Linked DNA regions of Homo sapiens. The protein of the gene in region 1 purifies or fractionates together with the protein of each later gene. This does not show direct contact. Each region holds a gene or a part of one and is shown on either strand. Other genes may lie near its edges.

Region 1 (3,753 bases):
CTGCCTGATCCCAATTCTGCTACAAGCCTTGACCAACTGGCCAATAATCCCCATGGTGCCTACCTTCCAGAATTTAAGTTCCATGAAGGGCTTTGAGCCTTTTCATTTACTATTGTTTACAATATCGCAATGCTTACAACAATGTTAGTGCATGGTAAGTACTCAAAAAATATTTGTTTGAATGAATAAAATAGTGATTTTTTCCATAGAGACGGTGTCTCACTATGTTGCGCAGGTTGGTCTCAAACTCCTGGGTTCAAGCGAACCTCTTGCCTTGGCCTCCCAAAGTACTGGGATTACAGGTGTGAGCCACTGTATCCAGCCTAAAATAAAACTTTATTAACCAAAACTTATTTGCATATTTTTGTGGATTTTTGTTTTTGCATAACTCTATTAATATCCAATAGAACACTTTTTTTTTTGGCAGTTAAAACATAGTTTATTTTTTTAGCACATTCATTTTAAGAAGAACCTAATTTATGAAAGATATATCTAAAATGAGTTACTGGCTGGGCACGGTGGCTCACGCCTGTAATCCCAACACTTTGGGAGGCTGAGGCGGGTGGATCACCTGAGGTCAGGAGTTCGAGACCAGCCTGGCCAACATGGTGAAACTCATCTCTACTAAAAATACAAAAAATTAGCCGTGCATGGTGGCGCATGCCTGTAATCTCAGCTACTTGGGAGGCTGAGGCAGCAGAATCACTTGAACCCAGGAGGTGGAAGCTGCAGTGAGCTGAGATCGCGCCACTGCATTCCAGCCTGGGCAATAAAGGCGAAACTTGGTCTCAAAAAATAAAATAAAATATCAAATAAAATAATAAAAGAAAAGAAAATATAAAACAAAATGAGTTAGTAAGAGAGCTAAAGATATCTGGAGTGTGGCCACCATACCTTAAAGGTGAATTTACAAAGGGTGGCGTTACAGCCCCACCCCCAAATCCTCAGAGAAAGAAAAACCAGCCTGTATGGACCATAACCAGGAAGACTACAAGCCCCAGTGTGCTCTGGGACAATCCCAATTTATACCTGTTTTCCCAACATTACATCCCTTTCACTCTCAGAAGTGCCCACTTTAGAAGATAAACTATACAGTCACCTTAACTATGACCTACAATGGCAGTTATGCTAAAATTGGGGTAATGTGTTTCTGTTAAATTGTGTCATAATCACCTGTTTAACTGAATCCTGGGAACACTTACTCCATTTTCTAGAATAAAGTGTTGCCCATAAAAAAAACAAACAAAAAACACTATTTTGAATATATGAGGAATGCTTAAAAGACCCTTAGATGGAATCTTCTTGTAAAAGGAAAAATAAAAGCCTTAAACTTATTTATTTTTGAGATGCACAATCCCAAGTCCAGGAGGGGCTGGAACCCAGAATCCCAAGGGGACAGGAGAAGTACTTCAGCTCCAGAGTGGGCCCACATCCAATTCATCCAACTTTACCTGCAATGGCCACAGCTGTTCGTCTCTCTGATGCTTTTATTTCTGGGGCTACTTCTCCCAAATCTGAATGCCTGAAACAATTTCAGAAGAAAATTATAATTAAAAAAATGGAATACCACTTTCACCTATCAAACTGGCCGCATATAAAATCTCTTGGAGAGCTTTTAAAAACTATAAACCCTGGGTCACACCCCAGATCCATGAAACCAGAATCTCTGGGAGCTGGTCCTGGGTATCACTGCTTTTAAAAGTGCCCTCAATGATTCTGATATGCACCCACAGTTGAGAAACACTGGTCTAGAAAACCAGCACTCTCCAAAACTGCTGGCCAGAGCACAAATACAGTCATTCAGAAAGACAGAAAAATATACATACCCTTTGCCCAGTAATTCCACTTCTATCCTAAGGAAATAATTAAGATTTAGTTACAAAGATGTTGATGCCAGCTTTATATATAATAGCGAAAAACTGATGCCTTTTAAAATCAAAGTGCAATAACGGAATTATGGTCAAATTCTGCAGCCATTAAAAAATACGCTATGGATTTCTTTTGTGGACAAAAAGATGCTGGATGAGATATTAGGGAAAGCTGTTATATTAATTAGTCGGGGGAAAGTCAGGCTACAGAAAAGTATGCACAGTATGATTACAATTTAATAAAATTGTGTATGTTTATCTATAGGTATATATACAGAACTCTAGAAGGATGTTCATCTGAAGTTAACACTGTGGTCTGGAAGGGGTGATCCTGAATTATTTTAAATAGCTATGATAAGTGCAGTCTAATTAAGAATAAACTATTTTAGGCCTGGTGTGGTGGCTCACGCCTGCAATTCCAGCACTTTGGAAGGCTGAGGCGGGCGGATTACTTGAGGTCAGGAGTTCGAGACTGGCCTGGCCAACATGGTGAAACCCTGTCTCTACTAAAAATATAAAAATTAGCCAGGCGTGGTGGCAGGCGCCTGTAATCCCAGCTACTTCGGAGGCTAAGGCAGGAGAATCACTTGAACACAGGAGGCAGAGTTGCAGTGAGCCGAGATCGCACCACTGCACTCCAGCCTGGGTGACAAGAACAAAACTCCATCTCAAAAAAAAAAAAAAAAAGACTAAACTATTTTAGATGTATCATAGAGTGAGCAAATGAGTAAATGTATTGATTCTGCCAGGAGCCAGGGTGCTAACTAACTGCTGAAGAAAGGACATACAAACATAGAATGGAGAGTTACAGCAGAACTTGCAGAGGCGCAATGGAACTGGAGGCACTCGTGTGAACTGTGATTTCTATATGCATGCTTATGTGCATATGTGTTTAAGTGTGTAGATGTAGGTGTGCACACATATCTCTGTGTGTATACGAGTGTACACATGCATCTATTTCCTAACTGTCCACGGAAAGGGCCAAGAAGCAAAGACACTGTTGTGGCAATGGGCATGCCTAGCACCCTTTAATACCTTCCACGCTAAAAGAAACGGACTCCTTGGAGATCCTGAATGATGGCTGGGGCAAGGAAAGAACAGGAGGAGCCTGAGCATCTTATTTCAGAAAGTAAGGAAATGCTCGAAAACATGATGGGCACAGGAGCCAGCCTGAGGAACTCTCACTGGTCAAATCTAGGACAATGTGAGCACAAACATAAACACAGTAACTGATTTAAAACCATTGAAAACCAGCAATTAGTGAGTCCACATGGATAATAAATACATGGGCAGAAAGAGAAGGCTCTCTTGCTCACATCAGAACATGAAATGTGGAGGGGGATGCTGCAGTCAGAATAGTATCATTTTAGAGCAGGGTGCAGTGACTCATGCCTGTAATTCCAGCATCTGGGAGGCCAAAGCAAGGGGATCACTTGAGCCCAGGAGTTCAAGACTAGCCTGGGCAACATGGCAAAACCTCATCTCAACAAAAAATAATGAGCCACTGTACCCTATAGCCAGTAATTTTAAAAATTATAACACCAGCCAATCTGTCAACTCGGGCTCCAGCCCACTTCTAAGCCTTGCTAAGTTTCCTGTCTGTGTATCAGGCGGAGTCGGACCAAGACGGCAGAGAACAGCACTTCCAACGGCCCTACTCAGGGGCAAGGGAGCTCTCTGCAGTGCAGTTTTTGAAAATTACTAATATCACCATATATGTTTTTCTGATTCCAAAAATAAGACACATGTAAAATACAAGAAAGTATCATAAAAATGCTTTCCTGTCATATGTTTGAAAATTATACCCTATGTTAATCTGTCCTCTCCTCCTCTTAATCTACTCCCATTGCTCTAGCCCATTCTGTTAACAGATAGAAGAGTAGTG
Region 2 (3,753 bases), on another chromosome or scaffold:
TGGGGCTGGGCGGCCGGTCATCCACACCCCCGGTGCATCCTGGCACCGGTTTCACGGATGGTCCCACCTGAAACCGAAAGAGATGGAGTCAGGGCCGAGGCTAACAAAACATGAGCTCAGGGTGGCGGCCAAGGGCTACTAAGAAATGAGGGCAGGGAACCGCGACCCCTACCACGGGCAAGGGAGGCTTGCTTCTTCCTCATGCTTTCTCCCCGGCTTCAGTAATGAAATCCCCACAGTTCTTTACTAGCACAGGACAGCCACCAGTTAGCAAGGGATTCCTCCGACCCAGGTGCCATCCTAAGTGCTCTATGTGGGCCAACTCATGACAATACTGTAAGGTATGTGCTAGTATGCCCATGTTGCAGATGGGAAAAGTGAGGTATAGACGCTGAGTTAGTGGAGGAGCCAGGATTTGAATCTGGGACATATGGCCCTCAAGTCACTGGTCTCTACCATTACACATACTGCCAAAGACCCCTGAAGACCTGAGTGAGGCAGGAGGGGCTCTTTAAAGATGTCCTGCCTCTCTGATCTCTAGTCCCTGTTCTCATCTTCCCACATCACTGCCCCAACATCGTGGTCCCACCACCAGGGCAGGAATCTTGTGCAGAGCTCCATCGAACCCCGGGGACAGCAGTGATGAGAAGCGGGACCCTCCAGTGTCACCGGGAGCTTCCAGCCTGAGAGAGGAAACAGGGTTTCATCCTTGCAGAGCCTCGGGCTAATAGGGGAGGCCCAGTTCCCACTCTTGGAAAACTCATGTCAGGCCCTAAAACTCAGTCCATTCCCCTGAGAAGCACCAGCCCAAAAGAGAGATGCAAGGCCATTGTCAACCCCTGGAGTTCATTTTCCTTACCCCAATGTCAGGCCGACATGTTTTATTTATATCACAGACACGTTTGTTCTTATGGAACACTCAGTGTCCTTACATATTTTTAAAAATTCTAGAAGTTTTTTCTCAAAGTTGTCTTGAGAAACCATATACATCATAAATTCTGGTTGTTTTTTTTTTTTTTTTTTTGAGACGGAGTCTCGCTCTGTCACCCAGGCTGGAGTGCAGCGGCACGATCTCGGTTCACTGCAAACTCCGCTTCCCGGGTTCACACCATTCTCCTGCCTCAGCCTCCCGAGTAGCTGGGACTACAGGCGCCCGCCACCACACCCGGCTAATTTTTTTTTGTATTTTTAGTAGAGACAGGGTTTCACCATGTTAGCCAGGATGGTCTCGATCTCCTGACCTCGTGATCTGCCCGCCTCGGCCTCCCAAAGTGCTGGGATTACAGGCGTGAGCCACCGTGCCCGGCCATAAATTCTGTTCTTATCCCCACCAAGCCCAGTTCTCCTGCCCCAGCCAATGTGTGTCCCTCAGCCCCCAGGGTCAGCACAGTGTCCTGACAACATGTATAGGTGGAACTGAAAATCAAGCACAATGAGGGACCTTAATCTGCCACAGAAAACCACCCGGCCCACTCAAACCCAGGCATGTAAATCACTGCCAAGGTTGCATTTCTGTTAGCACAGACCACTGGGAATGGAATGCGCCTAAACACCAACTTCTGACAGTGGCAGCTTTATTTTAAGGGACAATTCCATCAAATAATATCCTTGAGTTTGATGAAACAGGTGCAAACTTGTTTTCACTTTTCTAGGACTTGGAGTCACAATCTTAACAGCTGATACAGAAATTTTTTTTTTTTTTTCGGTCTCACTTTGTCGCCCAGGCTGGAGTACAGTGCTGTGATCTTGGTTCACTGCAACCTCTGCCTCCCAGGTTCAAGCAGTTCTCCTGCCTCAGCCTCTCGAGTAGCTGGGACTACAGGTACACGCCACCACGCCTGGCTTTTTTTTTTTTTTTTTTTTTGTATTTTTAATACAGATGGGGTTTTGCCATGTTGGTCAGGCTGTTCTCAAACTCCTGACGTCAGGTGATCTGCCCACCTTGGTCTCCCAAAGTGCTGGGATTACAGGCATGAGCTTCAATGCTTGGCCAAGATGTTTTTGTGAGTACATCAACCCCTGAGAAAATCTGTTCACACTTTAGTGTGTCTACATCTCGATTTTTTCTTTTCTTTTTCTTTTTCTCTTTTTTTTTTTTTTTTTTTTTTGAGACAGAGTCTGGCTGTAGCCCAGGCCGGAGTGCAGTGGCGTGATCTTGGCTCACCGCAACCTCCACCTTCCAGGTTCAAGCAAGTCTCCCATCTCAGCCTCCTGAGTAGCTGGGACTACAGGCACGTGCCACCACGCTTGGTGCTAATTTTTGTATTTTTAATGGAAATGGGGTTTTACCATGTTGGCCAGGCTGGTCTCAACCTCCTGGCCTCAAGTGATCCACCTGCCTCAGCCTCCCAAAGTGCTGGGATTACAGGCGTGAGCCACTGCGCCCGGCATTATTTTTTCTTTGCATATACCACCATAAATGAATTTATTTTACTAAAATGTAATCAAACCATAAATCCTATGCAACTAGTTTTTTCCACATAATAAGATATTGTGGCCATCTTCCCATGTCAGAATACGTAGGGCTACGCCATCATTTTTAGTGCCTGAGTAGCATTCTGTTGACTGAGTGAAGCATGATTTATAATCCAACTCCCTCTACCCCATCTCTTCCCAGATGAGCAAGTCAGAGCCCAGAGACGCCCAAGCCATTTCACAAGAAGACACAGAGGGGTGACTTCAAATGATCAGTCCAAGAGTTTTGCTGTGAGAAGGAACATAGGAAGGTAGCCAAGTATGACATGGCTTCCCATAGCCGGCTTTAGACACCCCAACACCCCTACACCCACATCTCCACGAACCCACACACATCAGAAGAGTATGCAGCTTCGCCTGGGCTCCACCCTGACAGCTGCCTTTGTCCTGGGCTCTGGGGACCTGCCCTCAAGCCTCTAACACAGACCTCAGGGCCAGGAGGCCCCAGAAGCTGATGCCTTGGGCTACTGTCTGCTGTCCTAGTGTCATCACACACAGGGGTCAGTGACTTGTGTTAAGGCCTTCTGGAGTAAAGCCATCATCTCTCTGCCCCTCCAGTAATTTACTAACAGAGATGGAGGGACCCAGGTCTCACTCTGCCAAAGGCAATCCCTCGGAGAAAGATGACCTGGGCCACCCCCAGGGGAGGAAGAAAGAAGATGGCAAGACCGACATTTTCCCCATTAGCAGCCCTCTGGACAGCTCCCTCGGGTTCTGGGCCTCTCTGAGTGTTGAGAAGCTCCAGAAGCCTTGCACTCTTGCCACTTATAGGGAACACGCACCAGTTCAGACAAGGCCTCCGCACTCCCCAGCTGTGGGACCTCAGACAAGTCTCCCATCCTCTCCGTGGCCCTAAGCCCTCATCTGGATGTATCCCTTAGGGGGTTTCAATGGGAATGAAATAAGATAATCCTCAGCACACTGCCTAGAACGTGGCTATGCTGCATTTGAGTTATCATTGCCCCAGGAGGCTGGTAAAGAGCCAGGAGCAGTGGGTAAATTGGCCAAGCTGCCCTCACAGGGGGGATGGGGTAGGGAGATTCTAGGGGGGTCTTCCCCAGCACCTGGATGTCAATCCCTGGAATTCTTTCAGCCCTCTGTAAGGAAATATTGATCCTCATGGCCCCAGGGGAGGCTGGGCTGGCCTGGGCAACTGGAGACACAGCAGCTCAAGCAGCCGCTTCCATTTGGCCCAAGTGCAAAGCTTTGAAAGCATCCTTGTGGGGACCACAAAATGTAAAGGACTGACAACTCCAGCCCAGCCCCACACCCTGCCTC

What was found. Proteins that work in one complex are often made in the same cells at the same time.
Region 2: the proteins of URGCP (region 1) and CUEDC1 purify together in Homo sapiens (co-immunoprecipitation; 2 studies listed by BioGRID and IntAct, with this or other methods). This does not show direct contact.

What each region holds. Positions count from the first base shown.
Region 1 is NC_000007.14:43,885,964-43,889,716, forward strand, and holds part of URGCP (up-regulator of cell proliferation), read right to left. Parts: intron 1,854-3,753; coding exon 1,827-1,853; intron 1,523-1,826; coding exon 1,452-1,522; intron 1-1,451. Other genes in the region: URGCP-MRPS24 (uncharacterized protein LOC100534592), read right to left, coding at 1,452-1,522. UniProt on the Homo sapiens protein: May be involved in cell cycle progression through the regulation of cyclin D1 expression. May participate in the development of hepatocellular carcinoma (HCC) by promoting hepatocellular growth and survival.
Region 2 is NC_000017.11:57,885,813-57,889,565, forward strand, and holds part of CUEDC1 (CUE domain-containing protein 1), read right to left. Parts: intron 68-3,753; 5' UTR 1-67.